3 linked regions of the Homo sapiens genome follow. The protein of the gene in region 3 interacts with the protein of the main gene of each other region in a pairwise test. Each region holds a gene or a part of one and is shown on either strand. Other genes may lie near its edges.

The links. Proteins that work in one complex are often made in the same cells at the same time.
Region 1: the proteins of PDPK1 (region 3) and ZDHHC17 interact in binary tests that used the Homo sapiens proteins (3 or more experiments, as listed by UniProt).
Region 2: the proteins of PDPK1 (region 3) and PPP2R2B interact in binary tests that used the Homo sapiens proteins (3 or more experiments, as listed by UniProt).

Annotation. Positions count from the first base shown.
Region 1 is NC_000012.12:76,851,115-76,854,232, reverse strand, and holds the end of ZDHHC17 (palmitoyltransferase ZDHHC17), read right to left. Parts: 3' UTR 537-3,118; downstream 1-536. UniProt on the Homo sapiens protein: Palmitoyltransferase that catalyzes the addition of palmitate onto various protein substrates and is involved in a variety of cellular processes.
Region 2 is NC_000005.10:146,868,722-146,875,757, reverse strand, and holds part of PPP2R2B (serine/threonine-protein phosphatase 2A 55 kDa regulatory subunit B beta isoform), read left to right. Parts: intron 1-7,036. UniProt on the Homo sapiens protein: The B regulatory subunit might modulate substrate selectivity and catalytic activity, and might also direct the localization of the catalytic enzyme to a particular subcellular compartment.
Region 3 is NC_000016.10:2,533,128-2,541,029, forward strand, and holds the start of PDPK1 (3-phosphoinositide-dependent protein kinase 1), read left to right. Parts: upstream 1-4,893; 5' UTR 4,894-4,985; coding exon 4,986-5,009; intron 5,010-5,491; exon of another isoform or gene 5,492-5,644; intron 5,645-6,708; exon of another isoform or gene 6,709-6,923; intron 6,924-7,902. UniProt on the Homo sapiens protein: Serine/threonine kinase which acts as a master kinase, phosphorylating and activating a subgroup of the AGC family of protein kinases.

The DNA.
Region 1 (3,118 bases), on a different chromosome or scaffold from region 3:
TCCTGTTTAATACCACTGGGTTCTCAAACCATTAACAACCACTGGAACAACAGGAAACAGTTCCTTAATAATTTTTGCCTTTTAAAGTCCCAAATAAAGAAGTTCTCTCTGCCACGCATATCTTCTCAAGTAACTGAGATCAACGTTTGGTAGGTTTCATTCTGCAGTATTTTTCTTTATATAGTACATTTTGCAATATTTTTCTTTAGTATCTTTAGACATATTTAAAACTTGGAGATTCATACAGTCCCTGAGGATCCTAATTAACTACATGGAATTCAAAAATTCTTAAAAAATTTATTATCTTTATTTAAAAAAAAATTACACACACACACACATGCATACACACAGGATTGGAAATTTTTTTTTTTTTTTAGAATACTAACACCATCTTTTATTTTTCCAAATTCCTACAGTCTTATGCCACTTGACTCCTAGTTAACCAGGATATAAATGTATAATCTTTTCATATCATAGGTACCACTATCATTTCATCAATTTCCTGAAGTAAATTGAGTGAAATCATAAGCACACACTTAAGAGTCAGTATTTATTCTGATTAATATTTTACAAAATTTTGACATTTAATTTATGTAAGGAGGGCTAATTTATTAAACACTTTACAGGTTTTTCTTTCCACAGAATAACACGGTAAGTAGCAAAATAATACTTGGCACAGTTATAAATAAAGAAAATATAAAATAAAAACATCCATAGCTTAAGTACAATGATGCTGTTTTACGCCCATTAATATCAAATAAATTCCTGGAAACAACAAAAATATGAATGAAAAAAAACTCCAAGGAAGTAATTCATGTTCAGTGCTGAGAATTAAGTTCCTATTTGCTAAAAGTATCCAATTAAGTTGATAAGAACTATTCCCAAAGGTTCACCATCATACACAACTTTAGAACTGGGTTTATAGTTGGTTCCACACACAGGACCTACAAAATAATTAAACAGATGGTATACTGCTGCATAGCTGGCTCCTGACCATCTGACCATTTCTGAGTTATAGATTTCACAGGTACTACAAGATGGTTACTACAAAAGCATTCACATTGCTAGTATTTTCCATGTAATTACACATCTAGAGGTTTGTCTTTTTAACTGAATGACATCTCTTTTGCACTGAAAATATTGTACCACAAACAAAGAAGATGGTAACAACATTCTTAGCCAAACTCTGAAAAAACCACCATAGTCTTTAACTGTTGATAAAAATGTATTCGATAAAAATGCAACTGAGTCTTCATGTGAAGTGGCTCAAAATACAAAAAATTAAAACAAATTCTAGCATTTTATAAATAACTTTGAATTTAAAAATTATCTAAAATTTCCCCCAATTAGTAGTCAAAACTAGCTGACATTTGTAAAGTTAACCAATTTTTACATTCTATGACAAAATGGCACAATGCTATTGCCACCCCACACCCATCTCTTCCCTTTTCAAAAATAAAGTACATATGCCAATTTTCTAATATTAAAACACATACACTAAGGGTAATCTTTTTTTGATGTGTGACTTATGGTCAAATAAGCTACTATATAAAAATGGTACTTGGAAATACTGAACATCAACTATATACATTTCACTGCTCCTCTTACTAAGGCAAGGGGCGGGTATACCACTAGATTGCTTTAATACCTGTAATCTGCATTTTACAGGGAAGACTAGTTTTACCAAGCATCAGACATGCAGTGAACTTGCAGGGTATAATGCCTATTAACAGCAATTTTGAACATCACTAGAAGCTCATTAGTTATCTCCCTTTTCTTTTTGGTTGGACAAAATGAAATGAGCAGCTTTAAAAACACTAACACAGACACAAAGAGAAAACTATTTGATAAATTATTTATATACAGATACACATTCTTTACATTGGTCTAGGATCTGTCATCAGTCTGACCACCATTCCCCCACATCTCCCACCCCATTCCCTCTCACAGATTTCCCACAGGTTGCTCGAACCACAGTTTGCTACAGCACTTAAGATGAATAAACCAAATCTCACCCTGTAAACAATATTTATGGAAGCAGTGACTAGTAGTCCACCATGAAGGTATGAAAATGCTGTGACAAAAATTGATCAGTGCATCACATTTAACAAAAAGAAAATTTTTTCTAAAACTGTTTCAGAACTTACTCAATATTGGATAAACTGAAATACTCTTGGGGATGAAATTCTACTTTCTGATAGGTCATTTTATTGAAACCAGAATATACTGTCAGCTTTTCTTTTATTCACATGTGCTATGTACTTAGATCATGCTCCATCTTTAGTTAAATGCCATTATTTTGTCTACAATTATTTTGCAGCTGAGAATTTAAAAGGAAGTATATCCATGTATCACTATTACTGAGAATTTTGCATTATTTGTTCTGCCTTTTCTTGAAAATACCACCTTAACCCTTAAAAATGGAACTGTTTTTGAACATCAAATTAAATTCTAATTTATGCTTCACTGGATAGTATCTGCTAGTATACATTCTATGTGGTGTGTCATGCAATTAGCAGGGCTTTTAAATTTGAACAAAAAAACATGACTTACTATACTCATGCAAGTGCTTCATTATCAGACCGTAAAACCTCAGAGTAAGGTTACTACAAATTATTTCACTGAACTAGAAATATATCAGCATTGCAACAGCTGATAGAAACAAAACATTGTTAGCACATTTTATTGTGAACATTATTTTCTCCTGCCTTTGAAGACAACATCACAGTAGATCCCAATCACATGATTTTCATCACAGTATTTATGTGTACATTCTGAAATGTACATAATAACTAGTCAATCAACTTAAAACAATGCTCCTGGAATTAGATGCAATACTCGTACTAGACTGCATCATAACATTTAGCCAAATAACATAAATTTAGTTTTAGTTAAAACTGAACATTTCTGATCAGTACACCATGTCTGTCAATAGAATAAGTTTACCCTTTTTTTGTGAAAAATACTGTGAGAACAAAACCCAAAAGTTGAGTATGTTGTGAATTTCCACATTAAGAACCATTAAAATTATTTTTTATCATCTTTACTCTTCCCAGAAATGGCAGTGTGTTCTGTCCATGTTTACTTTTGTTAATAAAAGTGTTGAAAAAAAGACTGT
Region 2 (7,036 bases), on a different chromosome or scaffold from region 3:
TATACCCTCTTACTGGGTGGGGAATTAGCTTCTAGTCCTTCCATAGATCTTGCTTTTCTGTTTCCTTTACTATTTCTACATTTTCCTCCTACCTGCTCAGTTATGTCAGATTGTTCTTTTTTTTCCTCCAAAATATCTCCTTCACATGTATTTCTGAATTTTTCTTCTGTTTGCTCAGATCATTCCACATTGCAGTGTTCTATTTAAAGCTGAAAGGTTTTTGCTGTGTAGTTAGTGTGAAGGACTCTAAACTCAATTTGCATTGTAAGTGGTGACTGCAGGCAAGTTCATCCAGCTAAGAGCAATGCAAATGCTAAAGGACACTTTCACCCAAGCTCCCCTCTCTCAGTCTCTTTCTCTCTCTCTGTCTTTCTCAAAAGAATGCATGGTGTGCATTTAATAAATAAATTTCCTAGGACTTTTTTTTAATTCTGAGCATGAAAATTACCACCCTCCCCTACCTTTCCTCCTCTTTTAAAGTTAACATCTTTGAGCATCTTCTATGTTCCAAGCACTGTGCTGAGCTCTTTATGTATAGCATTTCAATATATCTAAACCCTGTTAAATGGATGTTGTCATTTCCATTTTCAAAGAAGGAAACTGATGCAACTGAGGTCTGAAGATGTTACTAATTTGCCAAAAGTCACACATTCAATGGAAAACCTTGTCTTCAAACTCAAGCCAGTGTCTGAAGGCCAGGTTCTCCCACTAGGAAATTCTGCACTACTTCATTTTCCTTTAACCATCAGCTCTTATTCTGGGAAAGATTGCAATGGTTTTATCTCAGTGTATAAGCTATATTTCCATCAGGCATAAAATCCTTTGCAGGGAAAATTTGAAGTGTGTGTATGGGGTTATATAGAGGAAGGGCCTTGGGTAGGGTTGAAATTTCCCACAAAAATAAAGTCAACACAATGGTTTGATTTTTTTTTTCAGATATGGAACCCCAGGTTTCCTAACCAGGGATTCATCTCTCAAATCTCTCTATATGTGGGTTTCCTGCTATATTTTTAGGCTTCTGTTACAGCCAAGTAAAACCCTATCTCCATTATAGCAGTCTGTGAGTTTTCTAGATTAATCTTCCTACTTTCAAATGGGGCCACAGATAGACCAAATATTCTACATAGATGGGGTGTTTTAAAATAACTGCTCTGTTCTCAGTTTCCTTAGCTGGAAAGTGGGAATAACAATAGAACCTATGCCAAAGAAAAATTATTTGATGCAGAGAAAGCACTCAAGCACTCGGGATATGCCTAATACAAAGCCCACCCTTAATTCATTATAGCTGTTATTGTTACTTAATGTACTTCCTGGTTATATTCTGGCAACAAGTGGGTTCCACCTTCCCTCAGAAGCCTTTTTAAAAAACTGTCTTGTTTATACATATTAAAGGAAGAACAAGTTTACTATTCCAAGTAGCTCCTTTCAATTATTGATTCATTCTGCCTTTAATTCCTTCAACAAATACTGACGTTTTGCAGAGGTGATACGGGATGTTCCAATACAGACGTGGTCTCTGTCCTCAGGGATCTTTCAATCTAGCAAAGGAGATAGTATGAGACAAATAATTTTGCAAATAAATATATAGTTACCAATTGTGATAAGTGATATTTAGGAAAGGCACAAGATGCCTTGGGGTCATAAGGTGGAAAGGTGGATCTAATTTAGATCGGGAGTTCAAGGACAGCCTCTCAGACAGCTGAAACTGAGAACTAAAGGATGAATTTGCAATTAACAAGACCTGAAAGCATTTTAGGTAGAAGGGACAATAGGTACAAAAGCCCAGAGAGATAAAATAGCCTAACTGATTCAAGGAATGGAAAGATGACTATGGCTAGGAACAGGGAGAAGAGTGATAAAAATGAGAATGGAGTCTGCAGTTCATTTTGAAATGTACCAGAAGCAAGAAAGATTAATGCTAAGAGAGAGGGATGGGTAAATGGATAGACATATGATAAAGCAAGTATAAAATGTTAGTCACTGGCCAGCCATGGTGGTGTATGCCTGTAATCCCAGCTACTCAGGAGGCTGAGGCAGGAAATCGCATGAACCCAGGAGGCAGAGGTTGCAGTGAGCCGAGGTCGCGACACCGCACTCCAGTCTGGTGACAGAGCGAGACTCCATCTCAAAAAAAAAGTTAATAACTAAATTGAGGTGGTGGGTCTATGGATAATCACTGTAATTTTTTTTCCACTTTGCAGTCTGTTTGAATTTTCATAATAAAATGTTGGGGGAAAAAAAGACTGGAGAAGTATTCAGGGACCAGATCATATCAAGCCTTGTTGACCACAAGGAGTTTGGACTCTATCCAAAGATGAATGGAAAGCCATTAAGGAAAAGGGAAACATGATCAGATTTGTTTTTCTAGAAGTTTAATCTGGCTGCTGTGTAGGATGGGGTTAGAGAGCCAGGCATGTAATGAAAAAGAATGAAAGTTGGGAGATAATTAGGAGGTCATGGTGTGCTCCAGGATGGTGGCATCAGTAGAGATGGAGAGAATTAGATGGATTTAAGATACGTAATAGAGAAAGATTGCATTGCACTTACTTACTATGATTGGGTGCAGATGGAGAAGGTGATGTCAAGGACAACTCCCAGAATTTTGCCATGAAAATGGATGCATAATGGGGCGCATCACTAAAAGCGGAAACAGACTGAAAACTGATTAGTTTGAGAAGACAGTGAGACATCTAGTTTCACAGTGAGACTTGCAAGTAGACAATTGGATTTCTGGGTCTGAAGCTCAAGAGAAAGACCTGGACTAGATAATAAATTTGAGATTAAACATCACCAGCATATTAAAGGTACTTAAAACTGTATGAATAGATGAGATGCCTCAGATAAGAACATTTCAGGGCAAAATTTGAACCAATGAGTGAGAAAGTACAAGGAAGTGGATCTTGGCTTGGTATGAAGAAATTGTAGCAAAAAAGTACCTCACAATAGAATAGGGCCTTGGTAAGCATAAATAACCACACACTGATATTATTCAAGTAATACTATAATATATGGCCATTTCTCAGCAATGTGGTAGGATAAGAAGAGTCCAGTCTTGGATGAGTTGAGTTTAGAACGTCTCCAGGTTTGAGATCTGAGTGATTTGTGAAATACATTAGCTTTTTAGGGCCACAGAGAGTAAAAGTGAGGAAGTAAAGATTCCTCCTCCATCCCCCATTCCAAATAAGCTCAAGAAAGGGGAAACTTATAATGAATAAAGCTGGGAAGGTACATGAAAATGGCTTTTGATATGAAGATGCTGGGAAGGCATTGAAAAAATAAAAGGGGGTAGTGTCATATGATGGAGAGCTGCCTCATAGTTCCTTAAGTTGCTTTGGTATTTGTATGCAAATGCCAGATCAGAATGCTGTTTCCAATGCATATGGATGAATGTTTGAGCTCTCTGCTGTTCTCAGAGAAACCTGAAATGCGAGGTGAGAAGTAGCTGCCTTACACTATTGTAAATGACCTTTCTGGGGATGGGAAATGTTCTGCTACTAAACATAATAACCAGAATGCATTGAAAATCACTAGCAAGTATTCATTATTAGCATCCAGGTCCCCAGGGGCAATCCCAAGCCCTTTATGAGTGCTGGTCAGAAATGTACCAATGATCCTGGGGTGAATAATATTAGGCCAGTCCTGTCAAAATATTGGTAATGCCCAATGAAAAGAGCACAGCTGTAGACTGACATTCCTAGACTTTGGCGTTTGCATTTAAGAAGAAATAGGGGTCCAATTTCGACACTTAGCTGAGGGAAAGAAACTAAGGTATCGCGAGTACTGTCTATTCCAGGCATTTTCCTAGGTATTTCTTATGTTTACTCATTTAATCTCCATCAACAACCCAGAGAGAATGGTTGCATTAACCTCATTTTTAAAATAAGAAATTTCAAGGTACAGAGAACCAAAGGAACTTGCATAACAAATACACATGTATTACAAACATACTCACTTGTAAGTGGCATAACCAGATTAGAGCTCATGACTGTGTGGATTCTTGGCACATGTTCTTTGCTCACCCATGCTGCTCAGGATCTTTTGGAGAAATGCAAGTTGTGCTCCACCCTCCACATATATCCCATTGGCGCCTGGTCGGTGCTGCTGGATTTACTTGATCTATCTTCTCCTAGCACAGCAGTGCACGTCTCTGGGCCTTTTCCATTATCCCACAGGGAGGAAGCTGAATTCTACGACCCAGTAACAGAATTCTTAGCTGACTTACTCCTGTAGATTTCTTCTGTTATATAATAAGAACAGAAAAAAATGTTTATGGAATTGAGCAATCAAGATGTGAGAACTAGCTGGAGTTTTTTGAATAGCTTTCTCCATGTCACTCATCCCCAGTGTAGGACAGTAAGCATGCAGCTCCCAGACTGAGCTGAGCTGAGATGGTCCCGCTGGGCCATCTAGGCACCCACTCTTCCCAGCTCATGACAACTCATATAGTTGCCTGGGCCACAGCAAGAGAAATATGACGGAGGCAGCTGTGGGATGGCAGATGTTCTTTTGCACATAAATATGTAGATGTCTGAGGCTTCACTTTGGCCAGAGTGGCTCTCCAGCTGGTTCCCCTCATCTTCCATTAATAAGAAGACGATTTTGCTTTCACCCAACTTGTCATCTTTACCACCAAATTTCCTTCTTTTGACTCCAATAGAACTCTAGAATCAGGCTGAAAGTCAGCCCCAACATAACTATCTCGCAGAAAGCACAGATTATTTTTATAAGTCCACTAGGAACTTTGTCAGAAATAACCCAGGAACCTTTGAGTTCTCCTGCTCCAAGTTCACTGTGGAAAGAGTTAATAGTGGGAAATATTAATTGTTAATGTTCATAGCTTTCTTTGGAGAAAGGGTCATCCTGGGTAATGAGAAAGGGTGTGTGCTTGTATGGGGGTAGTCAGACTTTCACTTCTGTGCTTTAGAGGTAAATGACTTGATCGCTTACAACAAATGTTAAATGAAGTGGGGTGGGGGTCTGTGTGTAAGGGGAAAAAAGATGTATGGAGTTTAGGAATCTAGAGGGGCCCTTATGAACAGGTTTTAACCTGAGAAGGATGGGGTCTGTTGGACGGAGCGTGGCGAAGAGTACCTTACCTGTGGGAGGATGTGTTTCAGGTGTACTGGCCTTTGTGCTTGGTGTATTAGTCAGCTCAGACTGCATTTTTAAAAACGCCACATACTGGGTTGCCTAAATAACAGAAATTTTGTTTTCTCACATTTCTGGAGTCTGGAAGTCCACGATCAAGGTGCCAGCATGGTTGGTTTCTGGTGAGTTCTCTCTTCCCATGTATAGCCAACTTCTTGCTGGGTCCTCATATGGCCTTTCTCCTGTGTGCAAGTGTGAAAAGAGAGAGCGCAATCTCTGGCATTTTTTTTTCTTCTTGCAAGGGCACCAGCCCCATAAGACCTTATCCTTATGACCTCATTTAATCTTAATTATCTCCTTAAAGGACCTATCTCCAAATACAGTCACATAGGAGTTAGGGCTTCAACATATAGATTGGGGTGGAGGGGGGCACAATTTGGTCCATAACACTGGGGAACTGAAAACCTCCTCCATCAAGCATTGCTTATCACACTGGTATGAATCCTTGCTAAGCAATGAACCTGAAGTGGTCAAAGAATGGCAGGCCGCCTCCTCCACTTGACGTAGAAGGATCAGCTTGATGTCCCTCTACAGACACACAAGGGTGTAGAGGGTGGCAAAGCTGTAAATGTCTCTAATAGGGAATATTGTAGCAAGATGCTGCTGAGAGTTCCCAGGTGGTCTGAAAGATAGAACTTGGGTCCCTAAGTACAAAATACCACCAGGAAGGACCCTACCACAGTGGGAGAGCCACACAGGAAACTCAGTGAAACTAACATTGCTTATGTAGCTTTGTAGAAGTCAGGTTAGGGCTAGAGACACTCAAGTTGGGAGGTCTGTTGGTTCATGCCAACTGCATTATTATAATTCACATTTCCCTCTGCCTTTATGTTTTTATTTATAAGTCAAATAATACTATATTCTTTCTTACTTAAAAGGATTCAAGCATGATAAGTAAATAAAGCATGAATCACCCTCCATCCCATGCCCATCCCACTTTCCTACCCAAAGGTTACCATTATCAGTAGTTGGTAGACTTCCTCAGAGCCATCTTTCTATTCATACATTTAAATATACATGTACAGATATATAGTTGGGGAGGATGTTTGCATAAATGAGTACACACTGCCCGTTTTATTTGCACTTTGTTTTTCTACTAGTGATACGTCTTCAAGATTTTTCCATATCAGAACACCTACATCTGTCTCATGCCTTTTAATGGCTGCACGGTGCTCCATAGTATGACAGTACCACAGTTTATTTAGTAGTTCCCTGTGGATAGAAAATCGTTTCCAGCTTTTATATTACATAAGATGCTGCAGTGATTATCTGTGTATATGTGTTTTTGTTTAAATGTCCTCCTTCCTGATTTTATTATCTTTAAAGCTGAGATGACAGTTCCCATTTCTTAGCAAAATGGCAAGAAAAAATCAGAAATCTGTGGTCTTCTATTTGTTTTCTGTGTAACCTTGGATCAGTCATTTAAACCAAGAACCTGAATTTCCTAATGTAGAGAATGAGAATACCTGATCTACCTATTCATATGTGCCCAGTACTGTGTCTTCCAAAACCATTGTGGATTTGAATGTTAATAATTAATAATGATTGCTGGTAGTTATGGAGGGCTTTCTGTGCACCAGTACAGGCTTAGAGCCTTAAAGTATTTTTCTCATGTAATCCAGTTTACTTGTATAGGCTGATACTGTTCTTATCCCCCTTTAAATGAAAAGTTAAAGCAGAATAATATGATTACTAGTCCATAGTTACACAACAGTGAGTAGAACAGAAGTCACATCCAGGTCTATCTGATTCCAAACCCTGTATTCTTAAACTTGGCAAAAATTCATCACAATGTAGTATATGAACACCTGTTTAAAAGAACAGTTATGATGTTGATAGGGAAAAGATGATTCATTTTTCTAAAAAATATTCTTCTGAATCAATCAAT
Region 3 (7,902 bases):
CACACCTGACTAATTTTTTTGTATTTTTGGTAGAGACAGGGTTTCACTATGTTGGCCAGGCTGGTCTTGAATTCCTGACCTCAATTGATTCGCCCGCCTAGGCCTCTGAAAGTGCTGGGATTACAGGCGTGAGCCACTGTGCCCAGCCTTTTTTTTTTTTTTTTTTTAACACGGAGTCTCATTCTGTTGCCCAGCCCGGCGCGATCCTGGCTCACTGCAACCTCAGCCTCCTGGGTTCAAGTGATTCTCCTGCCTCAGCCTTCCCAGTAGCTGGGATTACAGGCATGCACCAACACGCCCAGATTTTTTTTTTTTTTTTTTTTTTTTTTTTTTTTAGTAGAGACAGGGTTTTACCATGTTAGCCAGGCTAGTCTCGAACTCCTGACCTCACGTGATGTGCGTGCCTCGGCTTCCCAAAGTGCTGGGATTACTGGTGTGAGCCACCACGCCCAGTTTTTTTTGTTTGTTTGGTTTTTTTTGAGACAGAGTCTCACTCTGTCGTCCAGGCTGGAGTGCAGTGATGCTACCTCAGCTGACTGCAAACTCACTGAACCTCTCAGGTTCAAGTGATCCTCCTGCCTCAGCCTCCAGTTCCTGGCTAATTTTTTTAGTTTTCGTATAAACGGGGTTTCATCGTGTTGGCCAGGCTGGTCTGTAATTCCTGGCCTCAAGTAATCCACCCACCTCGGCCTCCCGAAGTGCTGGGATTACAGGCGTGAGCCACTGCGCCTTGTCTGCGCCCAGTTTTTGTTTGTTTTTTAAAGAGACGGGATCTCACTATGTTGCCCAGGCTGATCTTGAAGTCCTGGGCTAAATTTTTGTCACTGTGCCTGGCTAATTTTTGTATTTTTAGTATAAATGGGATTTCACCACATTGGCCAGGCTGGTCTCAAACTCCTGGCCTCGTGATCCACCTTCCTCGGCCTCCCGAAGGGCTGGGATTACAGGCGTGAGCCACCGCGCCTGGTCTGCGCCCAGTTTTTGTTAGTTTTTTACGGAGATGGGATCTCACTGTGTTGCCCAGGCTGGTCTTGAACCGCTGGGCTCAAATCATCCTCCTGCTTCTGCCTCCCAAAGTGCTGGGATTACAGGCTTGAACGACCATGCCTAGCCATAATTATCCAGCTATAAGGTCAGCTGATTAATTCGTCTCTCTATATAATAACATATTCACAGGTTGGGAGATTAAGATGAGAACATCTTTGGAGAGGACATTATTCTGCCTTTTAGAGAGAAGGGCCTAGGACAGGAATTCCCAGTGCTCAGGTTTAAAGGAAATATGATGTTCCCATCATCGGTACATGAACGTGCCCCTTTCTCTGCATTCCTACCAACACTGGATATTTTCCACTTTTGGGACTTTTAGCAGTTGTTGAGCCAGCCCATTTTACAGCGGGGATAATTGAGGTTTAAGGAGGGGAAATTACTTGCCTAAGATCTCATGCAACTTTCTGTTTCCTGACTCCCAGTCAAGTCTGATTCTCCCTTGGTATGGCTTATATGGGAGGATATTTACCTGGTGGCTTGGAAACCACTGAATGACTTTGTATCTTCCATCCATCCATGTATCCGCAGCCCAGCGAATGTATATTGGGAGCCTCAGACATGTGACCAGGGCCTTGTGGGCCAGAGGCAGCCAGGAGACCTTTTTTTTTTTTTTTTTTTTAAGACAGAGTCTCCCTCTGTCACCCAGGCTGGAGTGCAGTGGTGCGATCTTGGTTCACTGCAACCTCTGCCTCCCGAGTTCAAGAGATTCTTCTGCCTTAGCTTCCTGAGTAGCTGGAATTACAGGCGTCCATCACCATGCCTGGCTAATTTTTGTATTTTTAGTAGAGACGGGGTTTCACCATGTTGGCCAGGCTGGTCTCCAACTCCTGACCTCAAGTGATCCACCCACCTCACTCTCCCAAAGTGCTGGGCTTACAGGTGTGAGCCACAGCGCCTAGCCAGTGCTCTTGTCTTTTGAGAGCCCCCTTTTCTCTCACCTGATCTCCCTGCCCCCTATTTTCCCCTTTAGTCTCCTTTCCAGACGCTACTGAGTAGCTTCAGGGTCAGTCTAGAGATGCAATCCAGGTTGGGATCCTTGCTGGGAGAGCCCTTCCTTCCCTGGCTTTGTAACTCAGGGCCTTCTGGTGTGCACACCTGCAGGGTCCAGGCTGGGCCTGTGCTTCTAGCTTCTCTGTGTCTCTCCCTGAGATTGGAATCCTGGCTCTGTCCTCAACTAGCTTGAAGGGGGGCCCCCAGGAATGGCCCCTTCTGGATTTCATACCCTTGTGTAACCTTGTTTCACTTTTTAAAAGATTTTATTTAAAAAGTTTTTTTTTTGTTAGAGACAGGGTCTCACTTTGTTGCCCAGGCTGCTCTCAAACACCTAGCCTCAAGCAGTGCTCCTGCCTCAGCCTCCCAAAACACGCCCGTTCACTTTCTACCAGGGTTGTGTGTGACCAGCAGATGTGTTGGAAGTGATGGTGTGTCACTTCTGAGGTTAGGTCATTAAAGACGCAGCGGCTTCTATCTTGTGTGTGTTCTCTTTTTCTTGGGCCACTCGCTCTGGGGAAAGCCAGCTGCTGGGGCTTGAAAACACACACGCCTGGGAAGAGGCCGCACTGGTGAGGGACGGAGGCCTCCAGCCCACAGCTGTGGGAACGTGGGAATGAACCTTTTAGGAAGTGAATCTTTCGGCCCTGCTCTAGCCTTTAGATGACTCAGTCCTGGCAGCATCTTGATGGCAACTTCACAAGAGAGCCTGAGCCAGACCACCCAGCCTGGCCTCTCCTGGATTCCAGACCCGCAGGAGCCATGAGTTTCTTTGTTGTTTTACACATCAAAGTTTTGAGGCAATTTGTTACACAGCAGTATATAACTAATACACCAGCTGTAGGGCTTTGGGCACGTTCCTTAGCCTCTGCACCCCCGTTTCCTCCCTCGTGCCATGAGCATTGTAGAGGCGAGTGAGGAACACGTAGACGCAGCACAGTGCCACGCACATGAGGCAGCTTTCCAGCCCCTCCCGGGATGGTTGTGGTCATTTTCTTGCCCCTCCCTGGATGGACCGTGACCTCACAACGTCAGGCCAAGTTATTGCATTCTTGGCCTGAGGTCATCCATTGGCCATAGACAGAGGTTCTCGGCAGGAAAGGGTGAGATAAAGAGAGGGGTCAGTCTCTTTCCTCCAGCCCGGGTCGGGAGAACCGTGCTGGGCCAGGTGAGACATCCGCTGTCTGTGCGGTGTCCTGGGATGAGCCACTGGACCTGACCCATGGGGAGATTTGTCTGTGTCGCCAGAGGGCGAGGGGTTTCCTGGTCTAGCTTGCCTTGGGCTTGGCCAAGCATTCTGGCTGCCACTGGGGCCCCCAGGACAACTGAGAACTGTCCTTTCTTCTTTGACCTTCAGCTGCCCCTCTCTCCCCTGTCCCCTGGTGCCTGCTCAGATGCTTTCTTCTTGTGACCCTTGACCCTTGGCCCTTGGCCCCTGCCCCGAGGCTCCTCCACCCTGGGCTCCGTGTTCTAGAGTTCACTGTGTACTAGTTCCTCAAGCTGTTTGTCCTTCACTGCTTCCGATTTTTCTGTGCATTACTCAAGAACTGCATGGGCATGTGTCAGTATAAAAAAAAATAAAGTTGGCCGGGCGCGGTGGCTCACGCTTGTAATCCCAGCACTTTGGGAGGCAGAGGCGGGCGGATCACGAGGTCAGGAGATTGAGACCACGGTGAAACCCTGTCTCTACTAAAAATACAAAAAAATTAGCTGGGCGTGGTGGCGGGCGCCTGTAGTCCCAGCTACTCGGAGAGGCTGAGGCAGGAGAATGGAGTGAACCCGGGAGGCGGAGCTTGCAGTGAGCCGAGATCGCGCCACTGCACTCCAGCCTGGGCGACAGAGACTCTGTCTCAAAAAAAAATAAAGTTGGCCGGGCGTGGTGACTCACACCTGTAATCCCAGCACTTTGGGAGGCGGAGACAGACAGATCACTGGAGTTGGAGACCAGCCCCTGGCCAACATGGTGAAACCCTGTCTCTACAAAAAAATACAAACATTTGCCTGTGTGTGGTGGCACATGCCTGTAGTCCCAGCTACTCGGGAGGCTGAGGCAGGAGAATCGCTTCAACCCGGGAGGCGGAGGTTGCAGTGAGCAGAGATCGAGCCACTGCACTCCAGCCTGGGCAACAGAGCAAATTTCCATCTCAAAAAAACCAAAAACCCAAAACAAAAAAACACAAAAAAACATTATCGACATTAACAACTACAAGGCGCCCGGCTAATTGTATATTTTTAGTAGAGACAGGGTTTCTCCATGTTGGCAGGCTGGCCTCGAACTCCTCACCTCAAGTGATCCGCCCGCCTCGACCTCCGCCTCCCAAAGTGAGCCACCGTGCCCGGCCGTGAATGTGACTTGATAGCCCAGATTTCCTTCCGTGAACGCTTGTTAGTTGTGAAACTAGCAAAGTTGCGCCTCTGAGTTTACGCAGAGCCGGCTCCGGAATCCGAGTTCCGGGTTCGAGCACAGCTCCGCCGCTACCTCGGGCGTGACCTTGGCCGGAGCCTGGTCCCCTCTGAGCCTCAGTTTCCCGGTCTGGGATGCCGGAATGACAGCTCGCCCCCTGCCCCGCCCAGCCCCGCCCAGCCCCGCCCCGCAGGCCCTGGGATTGGTTCGCGCGAGGTCCCCCTCCCCAGGCGGGGTCGGGCCTCTCCCGCCCGCCAGGCCCCAACCCGGAAATGCAGCTGGAGCGGAGGCGGAGCCCACTAAGGCCGCGGCGGAGCGACGATGGGCGCGGCCAATGGGCGCGGGCGTCGGCTGCGGCGCGACGGAAGTCCTGCCCGGCGCCGCGCGGGGGCGGGGCGGCGCCGGGGGCGGGGGGCGGCGGGCGACGGGGCGGGCGCAGGATGAGGGCGGCCATTGCTGGGGCTCCGCTTCGGGGAGGAGGACGCTGAGGAGGCGCCGAGCCGCGCAGCGCTGCGGGGGAGGCGCCCGCGCCGACGCGGGGCCCATGGCCAGGACCACCAGCCAGCTGGTGAGCGCGCGGCGGCGGACTGGACGCGCCGGTTTGTTACCCTGCCGGGTCCGGCGGCCGCCCGGGTCCGGCGAGGCGGGGCGGCCCGGGGTCCCGAGGGCCGGGTGCCTCCTTACCTGCAGCCGGGCGGCCGGGCCGGGGATGGCGGGCGCCGGCCGAGGGCGCTGCTTGGCTGCGGCGGGGAGACCGGGCCTGGGTTGCGGCGGGCGGCGGCCTGGCCGGGGGCGCTGACAGACGCGCGGAGGGCGGGGGAGGCCGGGAGGTGTCACCCGGCCCAGCGGGGTGGAAGTGCCTGGAAAGTTTGTTTTCGGCTTGGCGCAGCCTGGAGCCGAGCCTCCAGGGTTACCTTTCGGTTCTGTCTGTAGAGGAACCGCCCTGGGCTTCCACCTGGAACGGGGTCCTTGGCGCCTCCGCCTGCGAGAGAAGCAGAAGGTGCAAGTTCTTGCTGAAAGCACCTGATGCTCCTGGGCCCCCTTTTCCAGATTCTTGATGACAGTGGTCGGGAAAACTCGCCTTTCACGGCCCGGCCAAGGGGCATTTGGGTGCTTTTGCTGCCCGTGGCTGTGCTCAGCGTTGTGGGAAGCCCCTGGGAGGCCGAATGTGCAGGATCACCGAGGGGAAAGTGAGCTTGACAGGTAGGAGGGATTTTAGGGGAAGGACCAAAACAAACCACTTGTTGGGTGAAATGTTTTGCTAAAAGTGTCGCTGGTGTTTCTATATTTTCTCTCTATCGCTAAAAGTATCCCTCGTGTTTTTATGTTTTCCATATGCTAAGTTCTACAGTCTGGGGACGACGGTTTAAAAATTTATGCCTTGTATGCGATGTGCAGTGGGTGATGGAAGAACGTCTACATGGCTTTAACATTTGATTTAAAAGGCAAATATTTTAAATGAAGGAAAACCCAAGAAATTTAATTGATCCCGTGTCTTCCAGGATGCGGCTTTTTTTTTTTTTTTTTTTTGATGGAGTCTCCCTCTCGACGCGCAGGCTGGAGTGCAGTGATGCGATCTCAGCTCACTGCAACCTCCATCTCCCGGGTTCAAGCGATTCTCCTGCCACAGCCTCCTGAGTAGCTGGGATTACAGGCGTATGCCACCATGCCCGGCTAATTTTTGTATTTTTAGTAGAGAAGGTGTTTCGCCATGTTGGCCAGGCTGGTCTGGAACTCCTGACCTCAAGTGATCTGCCCGCCTCGTCCTCCCAAAGTGCTAGGATTACAGGCGTGAGCCACCACGCCCGGCAGATGTGGCTTTTTGATAGGCGTTCTTGATCTTTTTTTTTGTGGGGCGGGGAGTGGGGGGTTGTGAGTCTGTTTGAGAACCTGAGGAAAGGTATGGGCCCTCTTCTGAGAAAAAGGCAGAGTGACGCTGAATTTTGTAACTACGTCAGGAGGCTCTTGAACTTTCTGCAGCTCACTCGTGGACTTTGTAGAGATGCGTGTTAAGGAAGAAGGTTCAGCTGAGAAAAATGTTGAAGGGATGCCTTTCGCTATTTCGACATGTGTGGCTGTACACCAGAGTGGCCCGGGTAACATAAAAACATGAATTAGGCGGATTGGCCAGGCTCAGTGGAGGCTGGGGCCGAGAGTTATGTCGAAGTTTGTGAGGTTAACCTGCACCCAGTGACAGTCATGGCGAAATTTGTGAGGTTAACTCGCACCCAGTAACGCTGTTCCAATGCAAGGTGTGTATTTGGTGTCATCCACGGGAAGAGGAAAGAGCAAATTTTCTCATGGCCTTGGCAGTTCCACATGATGGACATTTCATATCTGCAGTTTTCTTCGCATGAGATGGCTTTTTTGCACAAAAACACTGGAATCCAGTGAGCAAGAATGATAGAATGCAAGATGGATTTCCACATGAGGAAGTGTCACGAACGAGCGTTTTGCATCTGTCAGCTGGATTCCCCCATGTGTACGTATGTGAGAACATGCCGTGTTTCCTGTCTGTAATGGTAGAGGCAGCCCTGATCCTGGATTTTCACCTGAGGATGGATAGATCTTCAGGGTTCAAGTGGGTTTGCATCTGGACTTTAGGGTGGCCCTGTAGGCCCTGTGTGAGAAGCCCCCTTCCCAGTGAACTTTCCCTTGTGTGTCCGCGTGGACAGCCAACAGGGGGAGCAGTGCGAGCGTGAAGGCAGACAGTGGCCTGGCCCAGTCTGATGCTAAGTGGGCCAGAGGCAGTGAGTACCATTTCTTGATCTGACTACTCAAGACAGGCGCTTCCCTAGGTACTTTCACACCTCATTGCGAGGTAGGTGTTGTTCCCATTTTACGGGTGCAGAAGCTGAGCTGCAGAGGCGTTAGGTACCTGCCTCATAAGTGGTAGAGACTCCAGTGTCACCCTGCCCCTCACGTTCGGAGCCCCTGAGGGAGGGTCTGCCGGGCAGCTCAGCCCAGCACTCTGTAAGGAAATCTTCAGTGCCACTGCCCAGGATGTCTTCCCAGGGATTGGGCCTGAATGTCTTGACCATGCCGTGCTGGAGGTAGGAGGGGTGTCTTCATATGGAAGAACTGTACATATTTCTTTGGCAGATGGCTGAACTCTGTGACCCCGGGGCCTGTTTCAGCCTCCTGCTGTCAGAAAGCAGCTGTTTGGGAAGAGGCTGTGATTCGGCCTTGTTTGAGGGCCGATACTCTGAATGGGTGAGGCTTGAAATCCTCCCTTTGGAACAAAGAAACATGTAATGATTTTGCTGAAGGTAGAATTGGGGGACTAGGCAGAGTGGCCTCCTGCCCTCCCTAGGGTGGTTCTGTCTTTTGCAAAGGTGGCTGCATCCTTAGGGGAAGGTGAGGGGAGAAGCAGGGAGCATGGAGAGAAGTGGCTTTCGATTTTCTCTCTCCTTTTGGGGAGTTCCTCCTTATGTGGCTGGTCTGGTGCATAGTGTGATGTA